5 linked regions of the Homo sapiens genome follow. The protein of the gene in region 1 purifies or fractionates together with the protein of each later gene. This does not show direct contact. Each region holds a gene or a part of one and is shown in the gene's direction. Other genes may lie near its edges. The genes, in order: CTSC, QSER1, RAB11FIP1, HEATR6 and ANKMY2.

Region 1 (4,809 bases):
TACATGTACAAATCATCCCAAGCCAGGCAACATTAGTAATGAATGACTGCAGCACAGAGGTAAGAGAGATGATTTAAAGGAGGATGAATTGTCTGCAAAGGTGCTGGGCAAGATCTAGACTAATTCATCCCCTTCATTTTAAGTTTAGGTTTTAAATAGCTTTGTTTGGCTTGATCCTAGAGCTACACATTTACTTTTAACTTGTTTACTTTGTACCCTATCATTTAGGATATGCTATGTACTATTGTACTCTATTTGATATTTCAAACATTCTCTCATTTAGTGAAGAAGCTCCCAACCGGAGTGCTCAGAACCTACATTGCCTCACCTGTGAAGTGAGCATGTGGGACTGAATTGCCTTTGAGGTCTCTTTCAGCTCTTAATGATCTGTTATCCCATAGTAAGATACATTATTTTTAATCTCGTTGGATCTTAAACACCAAAAATAATAGTATTTAAGACGTAGGATGCTATCTTGTCATTATTTTAATGCACATGTCAACACACGAGGTTTTGCTAGATGTTATGATAAAGCAAGCGAAACAGCAGGCTACTGCTCCTCAAATATCTACAGTCAATGAAATATTGACTGGCGTTGTGGGAAAATATCTCAAAAGTATTTTATTTACAATTTAAAATATATTCTTTTGCCTAAAGAAACAATGAAACAACTATAACTTGTTTTTGTTATTGTGTTAGTGTAGTCATACATATGATACAGTTTTATAATCTGCTTGATAAGGGTACGTCTCTGGGTTTTTCACACTTTGCAACAAGTGGGAAAGAACTTCGACAAAAACATTAAAACATTATCAACCTGGTTGCACGTTTTTCTGATTATTTTCAGTGCTCTTAGGTTTTTAGACCATATCAAAATTCTCTCTCTACACACATGATTTATAAGGGAAAGAAAAGTTTGCAGTATGCCTAAAATGTTCCTCAGGTTAATTATATCTTGTTTTGCATAGTTGAATGTTTATGGAAGTCTTAGATAGTGAGTCACTCTGAAACCACAGACTCTTTTTTAATAGTAATAATATGGTGAGTTCTATAATTCCTAGCATCTAGCACACAGGTATGATAAATGTTTTAATTAAGTGAATAATCAGCTTCCTGAATTTTTCTACTTTGTAAATATGCTCTTTGTGTGTTGAATCTATTTACATATATATCCAAGCATTTGGCACAAGGTAAACCAATGTGGCTCAGATTTTAATGTTATTGTGAATCACTTGGGGATCTTGTTTAAAAAAAAAAAAAAAAAGGAGATTCTGATTCAGGTGATCTGGGCTGAGTACTTACAGTATGCATTTCTAATAAACTTCTGGGTGTTGCTACTGATATTGGTTCAAGAACTAAATTCTGAGTAACAAGTATAAACCGAATGTCCATAAAGTATAATTTCTTTTAGTATCATATGGTTATAATGCTTGCATTTTGTATATATGTTGCATACAGGTTTTGCTTTTCTCTTTTTTCTTATTAAAAAGGTTATAAAGGTACACTGTAGAAACTGTAGGGAGTAGGGGAAAGCTTGGCATCTCATGCCACCATTCAGAGGTAACCATGTTTGGCATTTTAAAAATGCATTTATAGTGTGTGTGTGTGTGTGTGTGTGTGTGTGTGTGTGCGCGCATACATATATATGTATGTATTATACATATACGTTAATATACATATAATATACATATATTACTGTGCAAAAGTTGATAAATTGATTATGATTATGTATAAACTTTGATATCTTCTCATATTTAATATAATATAGTTGTGAGCACTCTTCCATATCATTAAATAACTTTCTAGACATTTTAAATGAATATATAGAAAATGAAACATCATTAATCAGTCCCTTATCTTAGAATATTTATTTCGGTTATTTACAATCTATTAGTAGTTTAAAAGTACTTCATGGAAAATCCTTATACATGCATCTTAGTTAACTTGAACTTTTATTTTTAGAGAAGACATGCCAGGCTGTTCTAGGCTATTGATACATATTGCCAATTACCTTCCTGAAAGATTGTACCACTTTCCACTTAGGCACAGAGTGTGAATGCCTGTTTTAATTACTCTATTTACATCAGTAAAGACTATATCTGAAATTATCTCATTTTTGGGGACAGGTATTCTAATAGGCTCTACAAGTATGATCACAACTTTGTGAAAGCTATCAATGCCATTCAGAAGTCTTGGACTGCAACTACATACATGGAATATGAGACTCTTACCCTGGGAGATATGATTAGGAGAAGTGGTGGCCACAGTCGAAAAATCCCAAGGTAATCAAGCACACATTTTATCATTAATAAAAATATGAATGCTGAATACCATCCTCCCTCCTAAGCAGTCCTACCAGTGTTGCTCGCCATTTTATTGGTCATCCCAGTTGTAACTTTTTATGTGATCTGTTAACGATCTTTATCTCCTATTGATACATATTCTGTCACTCTCCAAGTCCTATTTATGAGTTTTTCTTTCACATGTCTGTTGTTTCCATTGCCCCCTTTCCATTTTCTACACTCTGGCATGCAGCTTTGTCCTGTTTCCCCCATGCTATGGATTAGCCTCCTGCCGGTAACCACCTGAGGGGTTCTTCCTGCCTGCTGCATAAAGAAAAACCATGGCAATATAGTAGAGAAAGAGCTTAAGAGACACTAGGCTGGCCATGCCACGTGGGGGATGGAGTTCATATTCAAATTATCTTGTCCAAAGCTCATAGGTAGGGGTTTTTCAAAGGCAGCTTGGGGGAAGGGGTGGGGGTGGCCAGGTAACAGATGCTTGCTGCTGATTGGTTGGGGTGGGTGAAATCACAGGGAGTTGAAGCTGTCCTCCTGTGGGCTGAATTGCTTCTAGGTGGGGCCATAGGAGTGGGGTTGCTGGGTCCAGGTAGAACCACGGGTGTCAGACATGCAAAAATAAAATAAAATAAAATAAGATAAGGTAAGATAAAATAAAATAAAATAAAATAATAAATAAAATAAATATAAAATTTCCCTGAAAAGATATTTCAAAAAGCCAGTCTTAGATTCTACAATAATGATGTTATTTGCTGGAGTAATTGATGGAGTTGCATGTCTTATAACCTCTGGAATAACGGCTGACAATCTCTCAAGTCTGCGCCTTAGCTGGACTCAGGTTCCTCTTCTCCCCACAGCCTGACTGCCTCCATTAGCTTCACAAAAGTGGTTGGGTTTCAGGGCAAGGCCCATTGTCATTTAAACTGTAGCCGAAATGACTTCCAAAGTTAGCTTGGCCCAATAGCCCAGGAATATTTAAGTGGAAGGCAAGATGGGGGATGGGTTAGCTTAGCTCTCTTTCACTCTCATAGTTTTCTCACTGGTATAATTTTTGCAAAGGCGGTTTCATGCCTGCCATCTCTTTCGTCGCTACCTCTCCCAGTTCCCATTCTTAGCTGTTTTATGAAATGCTTCTAGTTTCATCCTCTTATACCAAGTTCTGGGAGACTGATTTGAGTAATAATAAAACTCCAGTTTCCCATACAGCCGGCTCTGCGTGAATTAAACTCATTTTCTATTGCAATTTCCCTGTCTTGATAATCAGTTCTGTGTAGGCCGTGAGGAAGGAGAACCCGTTGGGTGATTACGAGACTGTGTTACTGCCCACTACCTAATGGATACATTTAGCCTGGTATCCAAACCCATCTAATTATGACCATAACTATATTTATCACCTTGCTCTGCTTTCAAACGATATGACACACAATGAATGAAAACTTTCATTTTTCATCTTCATTTGTGCTGTTCCCTTTGCCTCAAATAGCCCTCAACTTGCCTACAGTAACTGTAAAATTTGCCACCTAAAAAAAAATCTCAAAATCCTCTCTATGCTTTGATGTCCAGCAAAAAAAAAAAAAAAAAAAAAAAAGTTATCAGTATAGCTCTATTACTCTCAACCAGAGGTGGCATTTTTCATCTTTACCCATAAGCCCCATGGTATATTTCTTAGTTTGGGAAATTATATCATAATACTTTGAATCTGTCTAGTCAGAAATTTAGATAATTTAAAAAAAAATTATTTTTCTGAAAGTATAGCTGGATCTAGCTTAGGATCTACATCTATCTAATATAGTTCCTTAACATTTGTTAAATGGCCACGGATAAGTCCTGTAATGCCATACTTTGCTTTAGGATCATGTGACTAAGGGGTAAGGAATTGGAAAGCAATGGGGAGCTAGCAGAATTTGAAAAATTATATAGGTAGGTTATTTTTCCTTAATACATTGAAATAGCCTCAAATTCTCAGAGAATACAATGTTTAATCCTCTAATATCTGTAGAGTTCATGGCTCAAATTTGTATTATTTGAATAAACTACTAATAGATTAATAATTACTCAACTAAAACACTTTGAAATGTGAGAGTTCCCTTATCTCCCTCGCAGGCATATGACAGAGGTGTGGCTTCTCACACCTTTGGTTGCCCTTGCCCTACCACCCAAACCCCTAGGGGGAGCATGCAGAGGGGCAGGTGCAGAGGCCATGGGGGGTGCTTTTGGGCTCTGGCCCCACAGCAGTGTCTAGGAGTGGATGTTGGAGACTCCTGAAGCCCAAGTGGGCATGTGTTACAGTGTGCTCTTTCAGCTTAGCCGTCTGCAGATGGCTTGTGTTAATCAGGTCATTAGACCCCATGCCTTATTGCAAGGGCAGGGGTCCAATGTGACAGCCTAAGTTCTTGCTCAGTGTACCAGAAGAATTGGATCACACGTGGGCTGGAAGGATGAGCACAAGGTTTTATTGAGTGGTGGAGGTGGCTCTCCGCGAGACGACTCTCAGCCAGAGAAGGAGGAT
Region 2 (4,809 bases), about 55 Mb from region 1:
CTTCCTCATTCTAGGCATAACTGTGATAATGTCAGTCACTATGTAATTACAATTGGTTCTTTAAACATGATTTGACATATGTGACATAAAACACCTCATAATAACGACTAAAACTGAATCAATCCATTATTTGTAACTTTACATTTAGTTAAATGTCGGTTCTTTATTACTGTTTACTTATTATGTTTTAAACCCCCCACCGCAACACACACAAAAGAACAATAGGAGATCTCTGGTAAAGAGCAGTAGAGTCAATTGATTAGAGTTTCATGAATATCACTTGACCCTCAGCAAGTCACATCACCTGTCAACCCCAGTTTCCTAATTGCTAGAACAAAGGAGTTGAACTATGTTATCTCAAAAGTCTATTCTAGTTCAGTGTATTATTTTAAACATTTCTAAGTGTTATTTATTCTTTCAAGTGCCACTAGATATTTTCTATCTTTGTAGTAATAATTCTTTTTGGATATTTAATGGAAAGTAGGAAAATATTTTTCAAAGAGCCAGAGAATTGTTTTCCCCATTTTTCCAAAAATGAAAAAAAAATTTAATGGAGGTTCACATAAAACATTTAAATAGTAAAAAGGTATATAAAGTGGAAAGTGATAGTTCCTAACTTTTCAAAGAGGAATTAACAGTTTGTTATTTTTATTGGATATCCTTCTATGTCAAAACATATGTATCCACCTTAATGTTTATGGCAATAGTATTATTATGGTATGCCATAATTATTTGATTGATCCCTTGTTTATGGACTTTTTGTTGTTTCTACTTACTGTAAACAATAACTATAATGAATATCTGGTACAAATATTTTTGTATGCACTCATTTCTTTAGAATAAATTTCTATAGAACTTTCAGATCACAAGGGTAAACCCATTTTTACTTTTGCTATATGTGGCTAAAATGCTGTCCTGAAATGTTAACAGTCTCTTTCTGACAGTACTTTGTTAATTTCTGATCAACTTTTCATGATAAACATGCATCTATTATGATTGGGAAGTTGTTCATAGGAAGTGAAAGCTTGAAATGCAAGAGATTTTTAAAGTGAATATATTTTGGTAAAAGAAACTGCAGTTCACTGTTTTTTTATATTTATTTATCATGTTAGATGTAGGCAATTTAGCTTTTTTTTTTCCATTTTAATGTTATGTACATTTTGGTTTGTCCATTGGTATTTTGTGTTGGTACTTTGGGATAAATTAATCACTAGAGATATGTACATTTTTACTGATTTCTTCATTTTCCTATGACCTTATCAAACTATATATAAATTATATAACAATTACAGATATGAATTGCTGATATCATTGTAACTTCATTTTTACTCTATGAAAACTAGCTAATCCAGGCGTGGTGGCTTGCACCTATAATCCCATCACTTTGGTAGACCGAGATAGGAGGATCACTTGAGCCCAGGAGTTCAAGATAGCCTGAGCAACATTGCAAGACCCCATCTCTACAAAAATTTAAAAATTAGCCAGGTTTGGGAGTATGCGCCTGTAGTCTCAGCTACTTGGGACACTGCGGCTGCAGTGAGCTATGATCGCAAGACTGCACTCTAGCCTGGGCAACAGAGTAAGACCCTGTCTCTTAAAAAAAAAAGAAAAGAAAGAAAGAAGCTAGCTATTTTGAAATGTAATTTTCAAAATTTACATGCAGAACTAACTGGTCAGGTTTTTCAGTCTTAAGACATTTTGATGAGTTGAGGGTTATGTAAGTCATTACTATGAAAACATAAAGTAATTGTGCCATAATTACATAAAAATCTTTGTGCCTTTTCTTCATAGGCATGCATTCCTCAGCAGCAACTGAGCTGTTTGCTACTGGACCTTTGCCAAGCACTGGAACACTTCCACCATCTCTCTCTGCTTATCAGCATCCCACCACCTTCAGCAATAGAAACTTTGCTACCACTTCACCTTTGGTGCTTCAGGATTCAACTTTTAACACTACATCAAATGGAATTTTAAGTCATCATGACCCTTTGCTACAAATCAAGACTTCCCAGGGAACTGTTCCAACTGCTTTGGCATTTGAGCGCCTGGGCAGTTCTGTATTAAGTAACAGCATACCACCTCAGTCTTCAACATACCGCTCAGCTCAAGAGTCTGCACCCCATCTTTTACAACCTCAATTTAGTTTGTTGCCTTCAGCACTTGGGGGATCCCAGCAGACTCCTCAAGCCTACAGTTCAACTCTCTTTACTAGTTCTACTGCTTCCATTGAAAGAGCTCTTCTTCGAGAATGTAGTGTTATTAAACACCATCAGCGGCCTTCAGGTACCCAGTCAATTCAGGCACAACTGACTGGTTCACAGCACTCCTTACATAGTTATCTATCAAATTCAAGTGTAGTTAATTTTCAGGAAACAACCAGGCAGTCATCTTTATCCTGTAGCCCAATTGGAGATTCCACTCAGGTGAGCAACGGAGGATTACAACAGAAGACCTCCCAGGTCTCAGTGGAACTTGCTCAGTCTTACTCATCTGCGATTCCATCATCAGGGTATCCTCCTTCTACTACAAAAATAAAAAGCTGTTCTACAGAACAACCACTGACATCAACCAAGACCCCTAAACCTCAAAGTATAATTCCTCCTGTGCAAACACTAAGCTATTCCAAACCTTTACATAATCAGAGTTCTGTAATATCGGGCCAAGCACAAATTTATTCTACAGCGCAGCTACCAAGCCTTTTATCAGTTAGTCAGTCCCAAAATTACGGTTTAGTACAGCCACATAATGTGCCATCTATTGTTCATTCACAGGTTTATAGGTCCAGCAAGGTTGAGAAATTGCCACCCTTGTATAAAACATTGACTTTTTCTGGGTCATCTCAGACTGTAACTCCTGAAAATCAGACGCTTAATTATTCATCTAATCAGCAAGAGGTATTGTCTTCAGTTACAAATGAGAATTACCCTGCTCAAACAAGAGATCTGTCTTCAGTAAGTCAGTCTCAAAGTTACTCATCTGGTCACTCTCAGGGTTTATCACCAGTTAGCCAGACACAGGTTAGCTATTCATCTCAATCACAAGTTTTGTCAGTTGTTAGTCTTTCAGAAAGCTATGCTTCAGGGGAGTCCCTAACATTAACAGCCCCTTCTCTTTCTTATTCTTCTGCCTCTCGGGCTCAGAATTTGCCAGACTCTAGCCCGACCCAGAATTATATTTCTATGCATTCTTCCCAAAATGTTCAGACTCAAGAGTCATCATCTCCCCAGTCCCAGAAGTTTTTGCCTGCTGTCCAGTCATCATCTTTTGCATCCTCTACTCATTGTCAGACATTACAAAATAACATAACTTCCCCTGACCCAAAGTCTTATGCTGAAAGAAAGCTTGACTCAGATGTGTATCCATCTTCAAAGCAAGAAGATGGTTTTCCAATGCAAGAGTTACAGGTGTTGCAGCCACAAGCATCTCTTGAGTCATCAACCCAAAGGCTATCTGATGGAGAAATTAATGCTCAAGAATCAACTTATAAGGTGTCAAAGGCAGATGACAGATATTCTCAGAGTGTAATCAGAAGTAATTCCCGTCTTGAAGATCAAGTTATTGGGGTTGCTCTGCAAGCATCAAAAAAAGAAGAAAGTGTTGTTGGTTCAGTGACACAACTTAACCAACAAATTGGCCAAGTCAATAATGCAGCTACCCTTGATCTTAAGAACTCAACTAATTTAATACAGACTCCACAAATAAGGTTGAATACTAAAGACTTAAAGCAGCAACATCCTCTCATACTTAAGGTGCATGAGTCCAAGGTCCAGGAACAGCACGATCAAATAATTAATGCTTCATCTCAGATTCAAATTCCAAATCATGCTTTAGGGCATGGCCATCAGGCATCTCTTCCTAATACACAGGTCCTTTTAGATTCTGCCTGTGATTTACAAATTCTTCAGCAGTCAATACTGCAGGCAGGTTTAGGTCAAGTAAAGGCATCTTTACAAGCACAGCGTGTTCAAAGCCCTCAACAAATAGTACATCCCTTCCTTCAGATGGAAGGTCATGTTATTCAAAGCAATGGTGATCATTCTCAGCAGCAACTCCATCCTCAAAATTCTGAAGTTATGAAAATGGACCTCTCTGAGTCTTCAAAACCATTACAACAACATCTAACAACAAAGGGCCATTTTAGTGAAACAAATCAACATGATTCAAAGAATCAGTTTGTTTCTCTTGGATCGATGTGTTTCCCAGAGGCAGTGCTTCTTAGTGATGAAAGAAATATTTTATCAAATGTAGATGATATCTTAGCAGCTACAGCAGCAGCTTGTGGAGTTACACCTACTGATTTTTCCAAGTCAACTTCAAATGAAACCATGCAGGCTGTTGAAGATGGTGATTCTAAATCTCATTTTCAGCAGTCATTAGATGTCAGGCATGTGACTTCAGATTTTAACTCTATGACAGCTACAGTAGGAAAGCCACAGAATATAAATGATACTTCCTTAAATGGAAATCAGGTTACTGTGAACCTTTCACCAGTACCTGCCCTTCAGTCAAAAATGACTCTTGATCAACAGCACATTGAAACACCTGGTCAAAATATACCAACTAAAGTAACTTCAGCAGTGGTTGGACCAAGTCATGAAGTCCAGGAGCAAAGTTCTGGCCCATTCAAGAAACAGTCTGCTACCAATCTTGAATCTGAAGAAGACAGTGAAGCTCCTGTTGATAGTACATTAAATAATAACAGAAACCAAGAGTTTGTTTCTAGTAGTAGAAGTATAAGTGGAGAGAATGCTACATCAGAGAGTGAATTTACCTTAGGGGGTGACGACAGTGGTGTGTCAATGAACCCAG
Region 3 (4,809 bases), on another chromosome or scaffold:
CCAGGCTGGAGTGCAATGGTGCGATCTTGGCTCTTTGCAACTTCCGCCTCCTGGGTTTAAGCAATTCTCCTTCCTCAGTCTCCCGAATAGCTGGGATTCCAGGTCCGTGCCACCACACCCGGTGAATTTTTGTATTTTTAGTAGAGTTGGGGTTTCACCATGTTGACCAGGCTGGTTTTGAACTCCTGACCTCAAGTGATCCACCTGCCTTGGCCTCCCAAAGTGCTGGGATTATACCCTCTGGTTTCTAAGAATGTATAAATTCCTTTTCCAGAGTTCCTGGCTCTATAAATGATGTCCACTAGTACAAGCTTTTAGAGCTAACAGAATGAGTGTCTTCCAAGTTTTTTTTTTCTTTTTTTTAAGGGTAAAACCATGGAACCTTATGGTAATTCTGATATTTCATTAATTCATCAGGTAGTTATTGAGTTCCTGTGATGTGCTCAACCCTCGTGGGATATAGCCTTATCAGAAGCCAAGGAATCTGCTTCCTTTAGCTCTGAGTTAATTATGTATTTTGAACTTCAATTTCAATGTCTAAATCCCTCCCATTGGCCGGATTCTGCTACTCTACCAAGAGTGCTGCCCTTTTCATTGGTTTAACCCAGAGTTTCTCAACCTCAGCACTGTGGACAGTTTAGACTAGACAGGCCTTTGTCGTGGGGGGCTGTGCTATACGTTGTAAGATGTTCAGTATCATCCTTGTCCTCTACCTGCTGGATACGAATAGCAGCACACCCCCTCCAAGTTGTGGCAACCAGAAATGTATCCAGACGTTGACAGATGCCCCTACACTGCAAACCACCCGTTTAACATCTTATCCCCTTTCTGTTCTTTTTCTTCCCAAAGTCATGTCTCACAAGAGAACAGCGAGTACGGATCTTAAGCAACTGAACCAGGTCAACTTTACCCTTCCCAAGAAGGAAGGACTTTCCTTTCTTGGTGGCCTTCGGTCTAAGAATGATGTCCTTTCCCGCTCTAATGTCTGCATCAATGGGAACCATGTTTACCTGGAGCAGCCAGAAGCCAAGGGTGAGATCAAGGATAGCAGCCCGTCCTCCTCCCCATCCCCCAAGGGCTTCAGAAAGAAGCATTTGTTCTCTTCTACAGAGAACCTGGCGGCTGGGTCTTGGAAGGAGCCTGCTGAAGGAGGTGGGCTGTCTTCTGACAGGCAGCTCTCCGAATCTTCCACCAAGGACTCCTTGAAGTCTATGACCCTGCCGTCCTACCGACCTGCCCCACTGGTCAGTGGGGACCTCAGGGAAAACATGGCCCCCGCAAACTCAGAGGCCACAAAAGAAGCTAAGGAGAGCAAGAAGCCAGAGAGCAGGAGGTCCTCTTTGCTGTCTCTGATGACGGGGAAGAAGGATGTGGCTAAGGGCAGTGAAGGTGAAAACCCTCTCACGGTCCCAGGGAGGGAGAAGGAAGGCATGCTGATGGGGGTTAAGCCGGGGGAGGACGCATCGGGGCCTGCTGAAGACCTTGTGAGAAGATCTGAGAAAGATACTGCAGCTGTTGTCTCCAGACAGGGCAGCTCCCTGAACCTCTTTGAAGATGTGCAGATCACAGAACCAGAAGCTGAGCCAGAGTCCAAGTCTGAACCGAGACCTCCAATTTCCTCTCCGAGGGCTCCCCAGACCAGAGCTGTCAAGCCCCGGTGAGTTTTGGCTCTTCTCGTGCAGGGCATTTCTGCCTTGCCATTGGTGGTTTTCAGGCTTACGTTAGACCAGCTCTTGTGGGTCCCATGATATCATAGTACCCATATATGCCAAAGGTTTGCTGGTCTAAATTATTTTTTTAACCAGTCCCTACTGCCAGCCTGGCCTGCCCTGTATAAATTGCAGTGATGTTTCCCAGCTCAGAGCTACTGCCCAGCAGGCATGGTCTGTCCTTTCAGTCAGCTTATCAGATCTCAGTGGAACGCAGTGGTTTGTAGCAGATTGTGGGTGTTGCAAGTTGGGAATACTGAGTTTGGGTTGTAGTGTATGCAGAACCTGTGTTTTCGAAGTTCTTATCTCACATTTCCCTTTGAGCCAGATGTTATCCTGCCTCCTTGCCTTTTGGCATTGGTTTCTGGTATGAGAGACCCTCGGTCCTCTCTCAAGTGACAGTGACGGTTCTTTGTGTCCACTCTGCCCCTTGTTGTAAGAGCCGGCATAAGCCTTGGGGACTGGCCTTGGGGACTTCTGCTTTTCTGTGTGATCACATTCATACTGACAATATTTCTGCGGTCTGGGGAGTGAGATTTTTTTTTTTAGAGATTCTGCTTACTTTGACATGCACACACACACACACACACATATACACACACATACACACTGTTCCTCTTAAACTTATCTGTGCCTGTTGCTTTGTGTTACATCTTTAACCACTTTAAACCTTTTAGGTGCATTTTGTCCTGTAATAATCAAATGCTCGGGCCTTGTGTTAATCACCACAAGAAACCAGAGGCTATTGCTTTACCGGGATCTTTTCATTTCTATTGCAACAGACTTTTGTGTGACGGATCTGCTTGGTTATAAAAGTGTCTGTTGTGTATGTTAAGTGTTAGTGTTCCTTTTTTTTTTTGAGACAGTCTCCCTCTATCGCCCAGGCTGGAGTGCAGTGGCACGATCTCAACTCACTGCAACCTCCACCTCCCAGGTTCAAGCAGTTCTCCTGCCTCAGCCTCCCGAGTAGCTGGGACTACAGGTGCACACCACCACACCCGGCTAATTTTTGCATTTTTCAGTAGAGATGAGGTTTCACCATGTTGGCTGGGCTGGTCTTGAACTCCTGACTTCAGGTGATCCGCCTGCCTCGGCCTCCCACAGTGCTGGGATTACAGGCGTGAGCCACCGCGCCCGGCTAGCGTTCCTTTTTTAACTTCTTAAGGTACTGCCCCACGTGTAAAGACGTTCTCCCCTGGTGAATGACTTGTTTTTGTGTATTTTCTTTGTCTCTCGTGATGCATCTGCACTGACCTGCAGATTTTATTTTGTCCTTTTTGCAGACTGGAAGTGTCTCCAGAGGCGCAACCCACAGCCAGGCTTCCTTCCCCTACTGACTCCCCTTCCTCTCTTCCTCCTCTTCCTTCTAGCTCTGGCCAGGCATCTGTCCCCTCTGAATTGGGACATGGTGCAGACACACAGTCCTCTGAGAGTCCTTCTGTCTTCTCCTCTCTCTCATCTCCCATAGCAGCTCCCATTTCCACATCCACTCCAATTGAAAGCTGGCCTCTCGTAGACAGGGGCCAGGCCAAGTCTGAAGGACCACCCTTGCTCCCTAAGGCAGAGTTGCAAACTGAGAGTTTAACACCGGTTCCAAATTCTGGTTCTTCTGCCCTGGGATCACTTTTCAAACAGCCATCCTTTCCAGCAAATAAAGGGACAGAAGATTCTCTGATGGGCAGGACCCGTGAGACAGGCACAGAGAAGAACACCAGCAGCCTTGAGTTGGAGGAGTCTCTCCCAGAGCAGCCTGAAACAGGGCGACAAGAGGAAGAACTTCCGAGATTCCCCTGCAAAAAACAAGACTACAGCCCATCATCTGGAGAAGCCCAGGAAGTACCGTTTGCCCTTTCACTCAGCAGTGATGGAGCTGTGAGCCCTGTTGGGGAGCTTGCAGCAGGAGGAGACAGAGACTTGGAGAGTCAGGCTGGGTCTCTTGTGGAGAGCAAAGCCAGGGATGCAGCTGAAGAAGTGGCGCCCCCTCTTCCCATGGGAGCATCAGTCCCTTCCATTGATTCCATGATGCGGAAGCTGGAAGAGATGGGTCTGAACCTCCGCAAGGACCAGAAGAAAACCAAGAAGCGTGTGTCATTTTCTGAGCAGCTCTTCACGGAAGAGGCAGTGGCGGGGGCTGCCTTGCTGGTGGAAGGACACAGCAGTTGTCCCCAGGAGCTGAACCCTGCATGGTCTGTTGCTGGAAACGCGTCTGACGGAGAGCCTCCTGAGTCTCCCCACGCAGAGGACTCAGAAAGGGAATCGGTGACCACACCTGGGCCAGCGACGTGTGGTGCGCCAGCCTCCCCAGCGGATCACCTCCTCCTCCCCTCCCAGGAGGAGAGTTTCTCCGAAGTCCCCATGAGTGAAGCAAGCTCAGCGAAAGACACTCCACTCTTTAGGATGGAGGGAGAGGATGCCCTTGTGACTCAGTATCAGAGCAAAGCCAGTGACCACGAAGGTTTATTGTCTGACCCCTTGAGTGACCTTCAGTTGGTCTCAGATTTTAAATCTCCAATCATGGCCGATCTGAACTTAAGCCTTCCTTCCATTCCTGAAGTCGCATCGGATGATGAAAGAATAGATCAGGTTGAAGATGACGGAGATCAGGTTGAAGATGATGGAGAGACAGCAAAGTCGTCAACTCTGGACATAGGAGCTTTGTCCTTGGGCTTGGTAGTCCCCTGTCCTGAGAGGGGAAAGGGGCCCAGTGGCGAGGCAGATAGGTTGGTACTGGGGGAGGGCCTGTGTGATTTCAGGCTGCAAGCACCCCAGGCATCTGTGACAGCTCCTTCAGAGCAGACCACAGAGTTCGGAATTCACAAACCACATCTTGGCAAGAGCTCAAGCTTGGATAAACAGCTGCCAGGCCCCAGTGGTGGTGAGGAAGAAAAACCGATGGGAAATGGGAGTCCAAGCCCGCCTCCTGGCACATCCCTGGACAATCCTGTACCCAGCCCCTCCCCTTCTGAGATCTTTCCTGTCACACACTCTTTCCCCAGCTCTGCACATTCTGACACTCACCACACCAGCACAGCAGAATCTCAAAAAAAAGCCACAGCAGAGGGCTCCGCTGGTAGAGTTGAAAATTTTGGCAAGAGGAAGC
Region 4 (4,809 bases), on another chromosome or scaffold:
ATTTCAAAGGTAGCAGCATGACCTGCTAAAGTAACTGCAGTGTTTTGTTTTGTGTTACAGGATGTCATATTTGTTGCAGACGCAGCAAATGCAATATTGATGTCACTTGAAGACAAGTCTCTGAATGTTCGAGCCAAAGCAGCCTGGTCCCTGGGCAACCTGACAGACACTCTGATTGTCAACATGTAGGTGACTGAGCTTGCTTTCCCCAGCTGACTTCTGAGATTGAGGGCCCAAGAGAATGTCCTCGATCTCTACCATGAAAGAATCAGCAGTAGTTCCCGCATATTATGCAGTCAGTCTTCCTGCTTTTTTTGTTTGATATTCCTTCAGAAAATAAAATTAATAAACTGTTCTTAATATATATTAGGAATGCATTAAGATATATATGTATTAAAAATACTGTATGCCGATATAAGTAATATGTCTACATTATAGAAAACATAAAAGCAAAACCTTAGTAATGGTTACTGTACTTTTAAAATGCATTTAAAAAAATTTCTTAAAGTAGTATATTCACAGGCTAAAAAAAATCCAGATAGTACAAAGCAGCATTCAGTGTGAAGCCTTTCTTCTACCCTGACACCTTAGTTCCCCTCCCCAGAGGTAGCTGGTTATTCATGTGCACGTGTCCTGCTTTTTGTCACTTCAGCGTATAAGCAACATGTAAAATGTGTAAGCATTCTATTATTGACTTGTTAGAAATCCTTATTTATGATTACATAATTATCACTGTGTGATGATTAACCATTTTTCTATTACTGAACATTTGTTTTAGTCTTTAGGCTTGTAGGCTTTTATATTCAGGGAATATTTTTGTGCATGAAATCTGCATTTTGAGATTTTTTTTTTTTTGAGACATTCCTATGTGGGGAACTATTGGGTCAAAAGATATATAATGTAAGTTTCTTGATATAATCTAAGCAGATTTGTTAAACTGTTTTCCTAAACTTTTAGGCTTATACTAATTGAATATATTTCTATATGTATATATTTAAGTGTATTTACCTTTTAACATGTGTTGTCTGCTTTGGGTGGAACAGGGAAACACCAGACCCAAGTTTCCAGGAAGAGTTCTCTGGTCTCCTGCTCTTGAAAATGTTACGATCAGCTATAGAAGCATCCAAGGATAAAGACAAGGTAGACTCACAACAAAACCCAGTATCTCCCAAACAGATAGTTAATGTATTGTAGCTGCAGTGTGGTAGTTCAGTGTGGCTTGATGTTCCTCAGACTGTCCCACCAAATGTACTCCTGTTCAAAAGAGACTGAGGGTGTGCTCAGGGTATAAATGGCCCATTCCACACGTGTATGGTTTCTTTACTGTCTCCTGCCTCCTGAAAAATATCAGTGCCCATTGTAATACTACATGACATATTCAGATTCCTTTTAAAATTAACTTTTTTTTATTTTCCAAAAAAAAAAAATTGACAAGTCAGAAAGATGAGTAGCTCTTGGCTTTGAATATTACCTGTTAAACTAATAAGTTTAAAAAGCACATGTCTGGGCTTTAGGTCAGACATACATGGATTCAAGCCCTGGCTCGCCCTTTAGTAACTGGGTAAGTTTGGTATATTACATAACTTCTCTGAAGGTCAGCTCCTCACATGTAACATGGAAGTTATATACCTCACTGGATATGAAGATGCCTTATGTTAAAGCACCTAGCACAGTACCTGACCCATACCATGTGCTCACTTTAATACTACTTCTGAAAATCTGGTAATCACCCAGGAAGCCCTACCTCAGAGTAATTCAATCAGAAATTCTGAGGTTAGGGCCTCCGAATCGGTTTTAAAACAAAAGGAGAAACCTCCCCAAATGATTCTGATGGGCTGCAGAGGTTGAGACTCTAGTCTAGTAGAAAAGTATTGGACTGGAATTATGGAACCTAGCTTCTCCTCATTGTCTTGCTATCAATCAGCCTTGTCCTGTTGTTCCCGGTCCTTATACTCCATCTCAGTAAAACAAGGAAGATGGACCTCTCTGAGGTCCTGTCTAGCACTAAATAAAATAAATAAATAAATAATCAGAGAGAGGAGTTCTGTAGAACCTCACATTTCTGATGGCTCAGGATGTTAACCAGAGCAGACCTTGTGAGTTCCAAGGACTTGCTTTAAGAAGTTGAAGACCTCCTGGGTTTTTTTAAAGCTGAAATTAGACTTTTGGAAACATCTCTTTGGCCAAACAGATTTCTAAAGCATTTACATTTTTTCTAGGTAAAAAGCAATGCAGTCCGGGCCCTTGGAAATTTGCTTCATTTTCTGCAACCCTCTCATATAGAAAAACCCACATTTGCAGAAATCATTGAGGAGTCTATCCAGGCCCTAATTTCTACTGTTCTAACAGAAGCTGCCATGAAAGTCCGATGGAATGCTTGTTATGCAATGGGAAATGTATTTAAAAATCCTGCCCTTCCTTTAGGTAAGAAAGTTTCCCTTCACTCCCTGGTGGAAAGCCTCTTGGGACACACACCAATCTACGTTGTTGTTAAAGATGTTTGTCACATGTTATTTGTCATAGTATTAGGAAAAAATGGAGACATACTGAAGACAAGTTTAGGGGGACATTGAAATACATCATTACCTATACAATGGGATATATAATGGGATATTTTGTTGCCATTTAAAATTACTTACAAGAATTTGATAATCTGGAAAAATACTTCTGATGTTAAACAAATGAAAGCAGGTATTAAATAATTTCTACAGAATGATCTCAATAGATGGGTAGAAAAAAGACTGAAAGGAAATTGGACTAATTATTAACAGTGATTGCCTCTGGATGGGTAGGATTTTTTCTGTTTTCATTTTCTCAGTTGTCTACAATAAGCATATATTACTTTAATGGTCAAGAAAACAGGAAGGAAAAAAACTGGAATGAGAGGGAATATAAACTGGAAATCCCCTATGAGCTGTGTACAGAAGTGGATGCCATTAATAAATGTAAGGAGGGCATCTGTCTCTAAGTAGTGGCATGCCATGCACCTTGATATGTCATTCAGGACCAGTAGCTGCTTAGGTGTATGGATCGGAGCCTCCAAACCTCGCTCACTTTGAATGCCAGCGTTCGCTTTATTGCATCTCTCTCTCTCAGATCTGAGACCTAAGGATGTGTTCCTGGAGAGGAGAGCACACATCAAGTGAGGGGAGTCTGGCTCTGCTCCCCTTTATTGCCCAGAGCGTCCAGGCAGACCAGTCAGCTGGGAGTATGTAAGGTAGCTTCCCGGCTTCTTCCATTGAGGAAGTCACCTAAGGGTGACCTTTTGGGTTGGAGCCCATTGAGGTGGTTATCCGCCTTCTGGAGAGCCAAGAAGTCCTTGAAACCAGGGCACCTCAGTGGTGGTTGGCTCCTACCAGCCTTCCTGTATGGCCCTTGCCCTCAGCCTACTAGAGAGAGAAGTTTACCTGCATGACTTGGAGGGAAAGGGAAGCTCCAAAGAGGCAGGAAGTTTGAGAACTAGAAAGCATCCAGTAGCAGAGCTATCAAGAGCCACATAAGAAAAGGGAGCTAGAAACTGATAAAGGACTCTGACGGGTCGGATTGTGAGTGTCTCATAGCTCTAGCAGTGGCCCATTGTCAATGGCACTGGCATCCACCAAATGGAAAGGGCCTGCTTGCCGGTCTTCAGAGGCAACAGAGAAGCCAGGAAGGGCTGGGAGAGTTAAGAGAAGCTGCATTCTACTCTGTCACCCATCTTGAGTAAGGACACCCCAAAGTGGAGTGGGTAGCAGTAGCTCTGGTAAGGAGGAAAGCAGGCTGATTTCCTAGGGCCTACAGGTGTGGAGAAAAGATAGAAATCTGGGCATCTTATTCTTGAAATTGTAAGTTTTCTTTTTCTTTGCAATAAAATGCATGACTGGCTATGGCCAGAGCAGTGTCTGGATGCTGTTGCAGGTGAGCATGCAGTGTGTGGCTTGCACACAGCTCAGAAGTGCCCAGCTGAGAGGATAGGTGGGGTTGCAGTTCAGTCCACGCTCTGCCCACAAAGCCATACCCCAACGGGACAGAATCCTCCCAGAGAAGAAGCCTTTTTCTGAGTCACCAAAGGCTTTATATTGGGTAGCAGAGGCTCTAAGCGTGTGGCAGGCTGAGGTAGGGAAAGAGGGAGGTTTGGGGATTGGCACCTGGCCACTTACCTAGGATCCTACAGTCAGTCACCACCCTTGTCTTACAGGATGATTGTGAGAATGAAGTGAACACATAAAATGAGTGTCTTGAGCACTAGTGTTTAAGCTTCCTTCCACCCCTCTCCCTCTCACCCCACCTAGTTCTAAGCCTGCATTTGTTTTAGTGACTGTGGATTCTTTCTAGGGACAGCCCCATGGACCTCCCAGGCCTACAATGCCCTGACATCGGTCGTGACATCATGCAAGAACTTCAAAGTGCGCATCAGATCTGCAGCTGCCCTTTCCGTCCCGGGGAAGAGAGAGCAGTACGGGTCTGTTGACCAGTATGCTCGGATCTGGAATGCATTGGTCACCGCTTTACAGAAGAGTGAAGACACCATAGACTTTTTGGAATTCAAGTACTGTGTCAGCCTACGGACCCAAATCTGCCAGGCACTGATTCACCTCTTGAGCTTGGCCAGTGCCTCGGACCTCCCTTGTATGAAAGAAACCCTTGAACTGAGTGGGAATATGGTCCAGTCCTATATTCTACAGTTTTTAAAATCAGGAGCAGAGGGAGATGACACTGGAGCACCCCACAGCCCACAGGAAAGAGACCAGATGGTCAGAATGGCCCTTAAACACATGGGCAGCATCCAGGCACCAACTGGAGACACAGCCAGAAGGGCCATCATGGGCT
Region 5 (3,898 bases), on another chromosome or scaffold:
TCTGTGCATACATAGGAAATGTGGGACTCATAACGTGTAAGATTTGATCATTCTAATATTTCCCCTTTAAAGTTATTTATGGCTTCCTCTTTGACCTGTTCTCATTACTGTAGATGATTGGAAGCATCTTCAGGAAAATTTCCATAGAGAAATATAGTTAATTGGAAAGTAAAGCATATTTCATTTTTAGACTTCATTCTGAAAAAATCTCATTTTCTTGTGCTTAATAAGAATTAATGAGAATTGTAGTTCTCCTAGCCATGAAATTCTAGAGCTGAGTAATGTTAACTAAAAGTGGTTATTGCTCAATGATTTGATTCTTTATGTAAAATGTACAAATTTGTCATGTTTATCTTTAGTAAAAGTGAATTTAACAGAGACTGTAAAATCATGTGCTCTTGAATGGCATACTGGCACTGTGGTGTAGGTAGATGGAAGATCACATTATAACTTTGATATACAGAGTTCAAGAGATTCCACTATTTCAGGGTCTTTCTATATTAGTTCTATAAGTTCTGGGTAATTTGCATTCTAACAAATAACATAATAACTTCATGATCCTAAGGAAGGCTTTCTTTGGTAATCTTTTGAAATCAACTAAATGGACTACCTAATTTGTACATGAACAAGTGTCTCCTTTAATACCTGAGTACACTGGGATTTCCTCTAGATCGTGATGCTTGTAAATGAGAATCCTCTGCTGACAGAAGAAGCAGCCCTGAATAAATGCTACAGAGTGATGGATTTGATTTGTGAGAAATGTATGAAGCAAAGAGACATGAATGAAGTATTGGCTATGAAGATGCATTACATAAGCTGTATCTTTCAGAAATGCATTAACTTCTTAAAAGATGGAGAGAATAAACTGGACACCTTGATCAAAAGGTACTCTTTTTACTATGTCGTTTATAAAATACACTCAAGTGAATATTTTTTTTAATATGAAGCCTCATTATTATGTGTTTCAAAATTAAACATTTTGGCAGCAATTGCTGTTGTTGGACTCACATTTAGTCTTTGACAAACAGAGAATAATATTATACTTATATTGAGTGATTATTCAGTTCTGTATCCTTTACTGTGATGTTTTTGTTGTTACCAGCAATTTACAGATGAGGAATCTGAGGTTTGGAGAGGTTAAATAACATGTGTAAGATCACACCGCGAGAAAGTGGCCCAAGTCCAAATTTGAGAATATTTTATGCCCTAGGTCGCAGCCCTAGGTTTGTAATGGCATCCAGGGTGTCTCTGTTACTGTATCTTGGAGAGCTGTGTGTTATGCTGCTTCTCTGACCACCAGAGATCAAATTCTCTTGCATCCTTACCTAGAAAAGGGAACTAAGTCTGAAGGGTGTGGCTCTATGAGAGTTTTCATTCTTAGTACAAATAACTGACATGGTAATAAGTAACTAGCTAATCTGATAACAGTGTTTAGTGTGTTTTATGGTGGTAGTCACCTTTGCATATTCATTTAATGGGCTGGAAAACCTTATAAGGCCTAGCCTAACATATAGGTTGAACAGCAATTTGAACTGAGCCCGTCATCATGATTTGAAGAGACAAAGAAAATCATAAGTAACAGAAGAAACTACTAAAAACTGTTGGGTTCAACTAGGAGAGAATGCTTAGTGATTCAACTCCAATTACGCTTTAAAAAATATCTTTCAGCTTGTTAAAAGGCCGAGCTTCTGATGGCTTTCCAGTGTATCAAGAAAAGATCATTAGAGAAAGTATCAGAAAATTTCCTTACTGTGAAGCTACACTCCTCCAGCAGCTGGTTCGAAGCATTGCTCCTGTTGAAATTGTAAGGCTCCTCTTACCTAAGTTGACTCTATCAGTAAAACCTAATTCCCACCTATTGTATTGTTAAAGGCAAGTTCTCTTTAATATTTATTTTTATTATTTCAGAATATTTTTAGGAACAAAGGTGGAGATAGGTTTGCCTGCCAAACCTGTTCCTGTTTATTTATTTCCCATCTCACGATCCTCTTCTTACCTTATTATGGTTCATAGTTTCATAAACAGGACGTCGCTATGTTGAAATGTAGATGGTTAGGGTAGAAACTTACATTTTAAGTACATCCACTATGTAATATAGGTACACACATGTACACTTGTAGCTATATGAATTATCAGCACAAAGTCATACACTAGATGCAAGTATGAATTGATCACCTAGGGGGATAGTGTCCAGGCAGTGGGGATGTAGTGGGATAAGCCATGGGAAGGCTCATTGTGGTTCCTGGTAACAATCTCAAAGTATGCCTCAGCTTCCTATAATCCACCTTAATGCCTCTGATTAGAAAATGTCCATACTTACAACCTATTTATACTTACCCACTATATAAGTGTATTTTGTTAACTTTATCTGTTATTTAAATGACTTACTATTCATTTGTCATATATTTTAATTTATTTGGCCTTTTCTATTTTGCGACAGAGTCTGTTTCTGTCGCCTAGGCTGGAGTGCAGTGGCACAATCTCAGCTCACTGCAACCTCCATTTCCCAGGTTCAAGCGATTCTCCTGCTTCAGCCTCCTGAGTGGCTGGGACTATAGGTGCGCGCCACCACGCCCAGCTAATTTTTGTATTTTTAGTAGAGATGGGATTTCACCATGTTGACCAGGTTGGTCTCGAACTCCTGACTCAGGTGATCTACCCACCTCGGCTTCCCAAAGTGCTGGGATTACAGGCATGACCCACTGCGCCCAGCCACCTTTTCTATTTTGAATAGGTTTTTGTTTACCCTATCTATACCCATTCATGCTTTTATACGTTTCAATCAAAAACTTGATCAGCTTTTGTCTATCAGGCAAGAAATTGATCCTAAGACCAGTCCCATCCATGGCTTCCTCCCTCCCTCTGGCAAATCTGGTTCCCTTCTCTGTGCCTTCTCTCTGGGTTGTTATGTCATTCTCAGTGTGGAACATCAGGGCTTCAAGTGGGCTCCAGATGCTCCTTTGTACATTAAGAATTCACCTAGTCTGAGCCATAAAATAAACAAGAAAGACCTGAGCAGAAAAGACCATCTCATAAAGCTCATGCATTAATTTGTTCATGTGTGCTCCCCCTATTTTCAAGAGTTTCTTTACTCATACTTTTTAATATAGTTGGCTATTTAGTGTTTATGCTTTTGGAAGAATAAAGTTAGCAAATTATGATTTGTCAATTACAAATGTGTCTTGGCAGCACATATCAAAGCCCAACCAACCATGAATTAAATAGATGAGGGTTTATGTATTCACATATACATAGATGCCCAAAGGTAGGCAGACTAGGTCTGGCATAGTGACTTAAAAATAGTTTGGGGACCCAAACACTTTCTCATCTTTCCCTTCCAATATTCCTTAGCTGTGTAGGTTCTCATATGCATACTTATGATCTCATGGTTACGAGGCATTTGATGTTCCTCCTCCAGCTCACATTCCTATCCCAGGCAGGCAGGAAGAGCAAAGGGGTCTATATCTGGAAAACATAAGCTCTCCCAGAAGCCCTCTGCCTGTGTCACATGACTTTCCTTAGCTACACAGGAGTCCAGGAAAATTTTTTTTTTTGGCTTTTCTAAACACTCCTCCTCTGAACAAAATTACACTTCTGTTACTGAGGAAGCTGGGAGAATTGATATCAGAGAAGCAACTAGCAGTACCTGTTATGTGGGATTTCCAGCACTCACAAATGGTTGCTGACCTTTTACCTTCCTGGGAAAAAACAGAAAAACTAAAACAGCAACCCAGAGTTCTTTAAAAAAAAAAAAAAAAAAAAAAAGCAGGTCAATATTGTGGTCAACAAGTTATCCTAGCTCCATATAATAGAATAATGTAATTAGAGTTTATAGAGTATAATTATTATTATTTTTATTTATTTATTGAGGGGGGTCTTGTTTTGTTACCCAGGCTGG

What was found.
Region 2: the proteins of CTSC (region 1) and QSER1 fractionate together in Homo sapiens (co-fractionation; one large-scale study listed by BioGRID). This does not show direct contact.
Region 3: the proteins of CTSC (region 1) and RAB11FIP1 fractionate together in Homo sapiens (co-fractionation; one large-scale study listed by BioGRID). This does not show direct contact.
Region 4: the proteins of CTSC (region 1) and HEATR6 fractionate together in Homo sapiens (co-fractionation; one large-scale study listed by BioGRID). This does not show direct contact.
Region 5: the proteins of CTSC (region 1) and ANKMY2 fractionate together in Homo sapiens (co-fractionation; one large-scale study listed by BioGRID). This does not show direct contact.

What each region holds. Positions count from the first base shown.
Region 1 is NC_000011.10:88,306,636-88,311,444, reverse strand, and holds part of CTSC (dipeptidyl peptidase 1 isoform a preproprotein), read left to right. Parts: intron 1-2,126; coding exon 2,127-2,282; intron 2,283-4,809. UniProt on the Homo sapiens protein: Thiol protease. Has dipeptidylpeptidase activity. Active against a broad range of dipeptide substrates composed of both polar and hydrophobic amino acids. Proline cannot occupy the P1 position and arginine cannot occupy the P2 position of the substrate.
Region 2 is NC_000011.10:32,929,952-32,934,760, forward strand, and holds part of QSER1 (glutamine and serine-rich protein 1), read left to right. Parts: intron 1-1,791; coding exon 1,792-4,809. UniProt on the Homo sapiens protein: Plays an essential role in the protection and maintenance of transcriptional and developmental programs.
Region 3 is NC_000008.11:37,871,363-37,876,171, reverse strand, and holds part of RAB11FIP1 (rab11 family-interacting protein 1), read left to right. Parts: intron 1-849; coding exon 850-1,657; intron 1,658-2,992; coding exon 2,993-4,809. UniProt on the Homo sapiens protein: A Rab11 effector protein involved in the endosomal recycling process. Also involved in controlling membrane trafficking along the phagocytic pathway and in phagocytosis. Interaction with RAB14 may function in the process of neurite formation.
Region 4 is NC_000017.11:60,043,640-60,048,448, reverse strand, and holds part of HEATR6 (HEAT repeat-containing protein 6), read left to right. Parts: intron 1-60; coding exon 61-185; intron 186-1,043; coding exon 1,044-1,140; intron 1,141-2,219; coding exon 2,220-2,424; intron 2,425-4,314; coding exon 4,315-4,809. UniProt on the Homo sapiens protein: Amplification-dependent oncogene.
Region 5 is NC_000007.14:16,607,536-16,611,433, reverse strand, and holds part of ANKMY2 (ankyrin repeat and MYND domain-containing protein 2), read left to right. Parts: intron 1-670; coding exon 671-885; intron 886-1,668; coding exon 1,669-1,804; intron 1,805-3,898. UniProt on the Homo sapiens protein: May be involved in the trafficking of signaling proteins to the cilia.